2 separate regions of the Homo sapiens genome follow, and region 1 is linked to region 2. The links come from fine-mapping of genetic effects on gene expression. A gene starts in region 2. The other region holds a variant in brackets. All regions are shown on one strand. Distances are between the middles of the regions.

Region 1 (4,406 bases), 22 kb before region 2:
GGTACTGTGAGTACCTTATAATAAAAAAATCTAATTCTCTGCTTTTATCCCATGTGTCATTTCTGTTATTTATTTTATTTACATGTAAGAATACATAAGCATATAAATATATATAAAAGATGTATACATAAGCACACATAATTAAATATATTGCTACTATTGTTATTTTGAACAAACTGCCATTTGTTAGATCAATTAAGAATAAGAAAAATAGTTTTATTTTACCTTCACTTATTTTTTATATTGTTCCTTTTTCATATAATTTAGGTTTCTAACCTGTATAATTCTCTTTCCTTTTAAAATAATTGCATTTAACTTTTTTGTTTTTTGATATAAGACAAGTCTACTGGCAACAAGTTATCTCAATGTTTCTCCAAAATAGTGGTTGTTTCTCATTCACTTTGAAGAATTTTTTTGGCTAAAGAATTCTAAGTTGATAAGGTTTTTTCTCTTAATACTTTAAATATTTGTTTCCACTGTCTTCTTGCTTGCATGGTTTTTGAGAAGAATGTAAATGTCATTTTTATCTTTGTTTCTCTACATGTAGAATTTATTTTCCTCTGGATTCTCTTATGATTTCTTAAATCTTTGATAAAGGGGGTACAGGGGCATATGTGAACTCTATATTTTTAATTCAGTATTTCTGTCAACTTAAACTGATAAAAACTAAAATCTATTGATTAAGACAAATATCTTGGGAAACATCAATGTAAAGCTTGCTGATCTCTCTAGTGTTGGGGGGAATGTTGGAGAAAAATATGCCTATTTAGCTAAGGACAAACCTAGATAAATTAACTAGAGGTGTGAATTGTATGCAAGAGATTGTGTCAGAACAGGGTTCCAATAATGAACTTCATAAGAGGTTTTAGATAACCTAAGACATTTTGAAATATAACACAACTACAGGAAATTATACAATACAAATATGTAGCTTGATTAATTATTATAAGATAAACACCTTTGTTGACTCCTGATATGGCCTAGCTGTGTCTTTACCCAAATCTCATCTTGAATTGTAGTTCTCATAATCCCCACTTGTCATGGGAGGGACCCAGTGGGAGATAACTGAATCATGGAGTTGGTTACCCTCGTGCTGTTCTTGTGATAGCGAGTGAGTTTTCATGATATCTGATGGTTTTATAAGGGGCTTTTACCCCTTTGTTAGGCACTTCTGTCTCCTGCTGCCATGTGAAGAAGAACACGTTTGCTTCCTCTTCCACCATTATTGTAAGTTTCCTGAGGCCTCCCCAGCCATGTAGAATTGTGAGTCAGTTAAACTTCTTTCCTTTTTAAATTATCCAGTCTTGGGCAGTTCTTCATAGCAGTGAGGATGGACTAATACAACTGCTAACATTGTCTAAGAAAGATCCTTGTTATGTGGCTCAGAGGCCCTCCATGTATTCTTAACTATTCACTCTCCTATCCTTCCAAGAATAACACTAATTTGACCTCTACAATAATCACTTTATCACTCCAGTTTTGCCTTTTTTCCTCCAAAACAATGCCTTTTAAGTCTATTTTAATCGATAGATTTCCTCTTAATATCATTTAAAAATATTTCTTTACATTTTTAGACAGGAATCAGAATAATTTGCTATGTTGAATTTCCAGTTACTTGGATTTTGTTGATTTCATTCCTGTGGTTTAGTTGACATGAATCTCTCCAATTGAAAGGGTAACTTGAATATGGTAGCTGGAAAGTTAAAATCAATTCTTTTAACTTTGGAAAATGATTAAATTCTGGAGATAGAATAGTAAGTTCATAAGATGACAGGTCATTTGCATCCTCTAGTGAAAAGCGAAGGAATTAAATAAAAATAACATTTTGATGCTTAATGTTTCTGGCAGTATTATGTCTGTATTTAATTGTTAAAATGTTTTTCAATAATTTTTTCCAGGTTGTCTGCATTCAAAAGAGCATTCTATTAAAGCTACCTTAATTTGGCGCTTATTTTTCTTAATCATGTTTCTGACAATCATAGTGTGTGGAATGGTTGCTGCTTTAAG[C/T]GGTAAGTGAACTGTAATCTTTATTCATCTAGAGAGAATTATACTTGTAAAAAGAAGAGGAAGAATCTGAATAATTTTGTTATTCTTTACAGCTTTTAATATATTGTCTCACTAACTGAGTTACACTCCAATAACTTTTTAAGTGGCACCAAAAATTTTAATTATGTAAATAGGGTTCACATTATTCCAAGTTTAGTGAGATGATCAGAGTCTTCAGAAGGTAGAAGACAGACCACTATTCCTTAAGAATATTGATGCAAAAATTAAAAAAAATAGTAAACTGAAAAATAGTCTCTTGTCCGATCTAGGAACATGGTTAATTTTACCTCCACAACAACCTTGTTTCATGAAAAATAGCAAAACAGATGGTTTAAAGTACACAAAACTACTAAGTGGCTGTATAACATCACAGGCAGCCTGTTCTTTCTTCCTAGCTATTTGAGCATGTTCTGGCCCTTGTTTTTTTTAGCATATGTAGCCCATCTTCCTAGAAAACAAACTCCGTTTAGTGATTGTACCCTAAAAGCAATTAGCTATAAAAATTATCTTGTACTTCAAAACATGCTTGCAGTGCATCTAATATAGACCAAGCGAAGACATAGAAAACTACAAAAGCACTTCCCCCAAACCTCATGCCAATCTGGATATCAACCTAAAATCTACCCCCTGTTACTACATTCTGAAGTAATTTCAGAGAGACCCTTCAAATACTGCTTACGTAACTTAAGAGTCAGCAATACTTGGAGCACTCCATATAACACTCTAAATAATTTCTATTCATTTGCAAATCTTTTGCTTATTATCTTTTGGCATTTTGAAACCACAGATAATATACTTTATACATTTATGAAGCAAAAATAATTTTTTTATTTCAGAGATTTAAGTCAACTAATTGTAACTATTTAAGAAAGAAAAAATTGGAAAGAGACAATTTCTGTACTCTGTAAGTACCTCAGTATTAATCAAGGGAATGTATTCTGAAATATAATTTAAATTTATAGCTCTTTTTTTTACAGTAAGCATATGAAATTGACACTTATGACTGTTTTCCTTTATTATCCATTATGTGTTTCTCTTCCTTTCAGCTAGCACTTTGGAAATGATTTCTTGTGTGGAGCCAATAGCTGGAGCCATCTTCTAATCTGGTCATTTTCTTTCTTTCTTTTTTTAAATGTGTTATTATGTATTACTTTATATCATTTTTATGTTTTATTTAACATTTAGATTGTTAGTTAACTATTCAAGTGTGGTATTTCCCCATTTAAATCGAGTTATTTAGATTGGCTTTAGTTATAAAAATTCCTAATAGAGCTTTGTAGTTATAGCTCTGGTCCCTAACTTTTTTTTTAAATTATACTTTAAGTTCTGGGATAAATGTGCAGAACCCGCAGGTTCGTTACATAGGTATACACGTGCCATGGTGGTTTGATGCACCTATCAACCCATCATCTATATTAGGTATTTCTCCTAATGCTATCCCTCCCGTTGCCCCCCAACCCTCAACACGCCTCAGTGTGTGATGTTCCGCTCCCTGCATCCATGTGTTCTCATTGTTCAGCTCCCACATATGAGTGAGAACCTGCAGTATTTGGTTTTCTGTTCCTGTGTTAGTTTGATGAGAATGATGGTTTCCAGTTTCATTTGTCTCCCTGCAAAGAATATGAACTCATTCTTCTTTATGGCTGTATAGTATTCCATGGTGTATATGTGCCACATTTTCTTTATCCAGTCTATCATTGATGAGCATTTGGGTTGGTTCCAAGTCTTTGCTATTGTGAATAGTGCCACAATAAACATACGAGTGCATGTGTCTTTATAGTAGAATGATTTATAATCCTTTGGGTATAGACCCAGTATTTCTGGTTATAGATCCTTGAGGAATTGCCACACTGTATTTTCCAAAATGGTTGAACTAATTTACACTCCCACCAACAGTGTAAAAGTGTTCCTATTTCTCTACATCCTCTTCAGCGTCTGTTGTTTCCTGACTTTTTAATGATTGTCATTGTAACTGGCATGAGATGGTATCTCATTGTTGTTTTGATTTGAATTTCTCTAATGATCAGTTATGATGAGCTTTTTATCATATATTTGTTGGCCACATAAATGTCTTCTTTTGTGAAGTGTCTGTTCATATCTTTTGCCCATTTTTTGATAGGGTTTTTTGTTTTATTCTTGTAAATTTTTTTAAGTTCCTTGTAGATTCTAGATATTAGCTGTTTGTCAAACGGATAGATTGCAAAATTTGTCTCCCATTCTGTAGGTTGCCTGTTCACTCTGATGATAGTTTGTTTTTTGTGTTTGTTTTTTTTTTTTTTTTTTTGTGCAGAAGCTCTTTAGTTAAATTAGATCCCGCTTGTCAATTTTTGCTTTTGTTGCAATTGCTTTTGGTGTTTTAA
Region 2 (4,406 bases):
AATTGAAGAGATATAGATAAAAATGAACTGAGTGCAATGCCAAGAGATAGGATAAATATGGCCCCCTCCAAAAAAAGATCCTAAGTCCATGACAGTGGTGCTAGAGATTTCTCACAAAACTCCAAGGAGTAAAACAAGAAACTATAAAGACAGATGGAGAACCACATGTTATGGTACATCATATAAACAACGAAGAGATGGTAGTCAATTGTGTAAGAATCTCGAAGTTGTTGGGTTCAAATAAAGAGAATTATGAAATGAAATAAGTATCCAATTAACACAGGAAATAATATGAACAATGGGGTTAGGAGAACAGAGATCAATGTAAGAGATGTTTCCAAAAGTAATGATGTTGTCATGGAAGTTGGCAGATGATCAAATTATCAGGTATGTAAAACTGATCATGAAGGTGTTCCAAGGAAATTACTCTAATTGTTTCATCAATATTGAACCCAAAATTAAATCAACCCAAACATAGAAAAGGAAAAAAAAAAAGGCAAAAGGCACAGTGTAATGATGCTCTCTTTACTCCTTTGGAAGGGATTGATAAAATTGCAACTACTTCTTGTATAAAGAATCATCCATTTTATAGATGACTACAAATTCAATCCTAAACCTTCAAATACAATGAAAAGAAAGTATGTACTGAGAGCTGGAATGACTACTCACCTAGGCCAAAGTCTCACCTAGGAATGAAGCATCAGGCACACAGTGCACTGAGCATGGCTGAAGGTGCATTGACTAATCTTCTAAAACCTACTCCAGAATGAGAGAGACTGGTACAACTCCATTTGTGCTAAATTTGGAGATATAAACAATATTTTGGAGTTAAAACCTAGAAGTTTTCAAATCTACATAAAAAATCAATTTCTTTTTTTTCTTGCAAAAGCAGAAAAGATGAGAGGACATTGGCACCTGCCAAGAGTGTTGATGAAATGGGGTACTTCCCTGGCCTCTTTGCAGGAGTTGCAAAGGGGTTGGCTTGTTTACTCAGCCCACAGCTCTCAACCCCTCATGGGAGGGGAAACTCACAGGTGAGTGGGTGTAGGGATCAGGATGAGGGCTTCTGTGTGCCAGCAGGAGTAGAACTCTGTGCTGCCCCATGGCAACATCTAGGGGAGTTCCCATGACCCCTCAAGCCCCAGAGGGTGAGTGTTACAGTGTGCTCTTTTAGCTTTTCTATCCACAGATGACAAGTATTTAACAGCTCAGTGGAGGGTCAGGGTGACAGCCTTTTGGACCTGCCTTCTTGGTACCTCAGTTCTTGTTTAGCGTCCAGGAAGAATCAGGTCATGCAAACAAATTGAAGGGTAGTGAATGTGGAGGATTTTATTGAGGGATGGAAGTGGCTCTCAGCGGGATAGGGAGCTGGAAAGTGGATGGAATGGGAAGGTGGTATTCCCCTGGAGTTCAGACAAACTCTTCTCCGAGGTCCCACCATCAAGCTGTCCCTCTGAGCTCAAACTGCTTCTCTCTGACATCCGGCTGCTTCTTCTTTTCTTTCTTTCTCTGTCACTCTGCTATTCCGCTGCTCTGCTGCTCTGCCACTCTGGTGATGGGGCCTGTGGTTTTTATGGGTAGAGGATGGGGTGTGGGGTGGGCCAAAAAGCAACATGTGAGTGGGAAAGCAGGAAATGCATGTTCTCATTTTGGTCTGTGATCCCAGGCTTGAGGATGTGTGGCTCTTGCTTGGGACAGCCCTCTTCTGCCCAGTATTTCCCTGCTTCCCACCCATATCACCAACACTGCTCCTAACCCTACTCAAAAGGTACATTAAAATATAGAGGTGGAAAGTTATATGCTGCTTCTCTCAGAGCAAACCCTTTCTCTCTTATGTAAAATAACTAACTTTCCTCCACAGCATAATTTAAAAAGAAAACTAATGATGACATTAGTCAGAAATCTGTAGACATCTCTACTCCTCTAGTAACTCTGAAAACTGGGTCTGCTAATGAGTTGGTAGCATTAAATCTGAAGACTGAAAGTTTTCTATTCTGTTCCTTCTCTTTTTACCCTTACTTTAGTGGAACAGTAAATTTCAGTAAAATCAGTGAAGGTGTATCTGCCAAGGTTCCAATCAACACAGAGGAAGAGAAGACTTGTTCTATAACTAAACTAGTAGACAACCCAGAAAAATTATCTCTACTTATAATAAACAGAAATCCTAATTACTGCATCCAACTACCTGACCATCATTCATTTTTAAGAGACAGAATTTTTAACGTTCCAAAGTTCTCACCCAAAAGAGATCTGACAGTTTCTGACTGCAATCCATTCTGGAGAAGTTGCTACTAAATTGAATAGAGTAAAGTTATTGTTCCTTTAAATACAATATCTATGAATGGACAATCAAGATTTATGTCCCTTAAGGCATAAGACAGCTGTTAAATGTTGTTCCTCCATTGTACTAATCAACTTCATACTACTGGAGGATATTTGTAAAAAATATTTATATATACACACATACACACACACTCTTAAAATAATTTGTGCTAGGTTATTTATTTATTTATTTATTTATTTATTTATTTATTGAGACAAGGTCTCACTCTGTTGCTCAGGCTGGAGTGCAGTGGCATGATCATAGCTCACTGCAGCCTCAGCTTCCCAAACTCTGGCGATCCTCTCACATCAGCCTCCCAAGCAGCTGGGACCACAGGCATGTGCCATTATACCTGACTAATTTTTGAATTTTTTGTAGAGACAGAGTTACACCGTGTTGCCAAGGCTGGTCTCAAAATTTTGGGGTCAAACAATCTACCTGCCTTGGTCTTTCAAAGTGCTTGGATTATAGTTGTGAGCCACTGAGCTCAGCCTGTCCTAGGTCTTTTAATGTCAAAAGAACACTTGCCCGCATATATATATATATGTATACATATTTGTCATTTCTTTGTCTTAAAACTGGAATATCCTGCTTTAAAACTTTAAGACAAAGTGTAAATGATTTTCTTTTTTTAATGAGAAATAGTCACCTTTTGTCAATTTTATTTGCTGATTTTATTGACTTGCGTATTCTACAGTGGAGACCTCAACATATTCTATGTATTGTGTTTTAGTAGCAAGGTGAACATATGTATGATATTTTCCACCTTAATGTTACTCTTTAATTGAATACATTTATAAGTTACATTAAAGCTTATTTTATGTTGAAAGAAGGAGCTAGAAAACTAGTGATGTTAAACAATGTGTTAACATTTATTTTCAATGATGAATCATTTAGTTTACAAGACATATCTTGTATTTTCTTTAGGTAATTGCCAAATCAGAGTCAAATTTATGGTAAGTTCATAGTACTTTAATATTTTATTAATATGAAATACTTGATTTTTACATCTTTAGAATTTTAATTGCACAAGGAGAACTTCCAATAAATATTTTCTGTATATAATTATGACACTTTCTTCACAAATATTACATATTCTATGCTCCAAGGCCTTGAACAATTTCTTGTGAAAATGTTGCTGCATTGTCACAGTTATTTCACAATTTTCATATAGAGAGGAATAGGGATTAAGTTATGTTCATTTGCTTTTTTTAACTTTTAAGTTCAGAGATACATGTGCAGGATTTGTAGATTTGTTACATAGGTAAACACATGTCATGGAGATTTATTGTACAGATTATTTTATCACTCAAGTATTATGCCTAGTATCCATTATTTTTTAAATTCTCTCCCTCCTTTCACCCTCTGCTGTTTGGTAGGCCCCCGTTTTTGTTATTTCCCTCTAGGTATCTATGTGTTCTCATCATTTAGCTCTCACTTACAAGTGAGAACATGTGGTATTTGATTTTCCATTCCTGTGATAGTTTGGTAAGAATAATGGCATCTAGTTCCATATATGTCTCTGCAAAGGACATGATCTTGTTCCTTTTTATGGCTGCATAGTATTCCATGGTGTATATGTACCACATTTTCTTTATCCAGTCTATCGTTGATGGGCATTTAGGTTGATTTTGTGTCTTTGCTATTGTGAATAGTGCTGCAATGAACATATGTGTGCGTGTGTAGTTATTATAGAACAATTTATATTGCTTTGGGTATACGCCCAGTAATTGGATTGCTGGGTCGAATAGTAGTGCTGTCTCTAGGTCTTTGAGAAATTGCCATACTGTCTTCCACAATGGTTGACCTAATTTACACTCCCACCAACAACGTAAAAGCATTCCTTTTTCAACACAACCTTGCCAACATCTATTATTTTTTGACTTTTTAATAATAGCCATCTGACTGGTGTGGGATGGTGTCTCATTGTGGTTTTGATCTGCATTTCTCTAATGATCAGTGATATTGAGCTTTTTTTCATATAATTGTTGGCCACATGTATGTCTTCTTTTGAGAAATGTCTTTTCATGTCCTTTGCTTACTTTTTAATGAGGTCTTTTTTTTTTGTAAATTTGTTTAAGTT

What was found. PIP is the estimated chance that this variant, and not a neighbour inherited with it, causes the effect.
Region 1: its variant is fine-mapped to the expression of LINC02390 in whole blood (INTERVAL, PIP 0.96).

The regions. Positions count from the first base shown.
Region 1 is chr12:9,679,025-9,683,430 of GRCh38, forward strand. CLEC2D (C-type lectin domain family 2 member D) reads left to right here. Exons shown (of 5, transcript NM_013269.6): 2 at 1,899-2,009. Among named protein-coding and RNA genes, the nearest start is that of CLEC2D, 12 kb to the left of the region's middle. The variant C/T (reference allele first, on the strand shown) is at 2,008.
Region 2 is chr12:9,700,879-9,705,284 of GRCh38, forward strand. LINC02390 (long intergenic non-protein coding RNA 2390) reads left to right here and starts at 2,506. Exons shown (of 2, transcript XR_931347.3): 1 at 2,506-3,279. It also overlaps a transcript of CLECL1 not described here. RefSeq lists an enhancer at 1,294-1,343.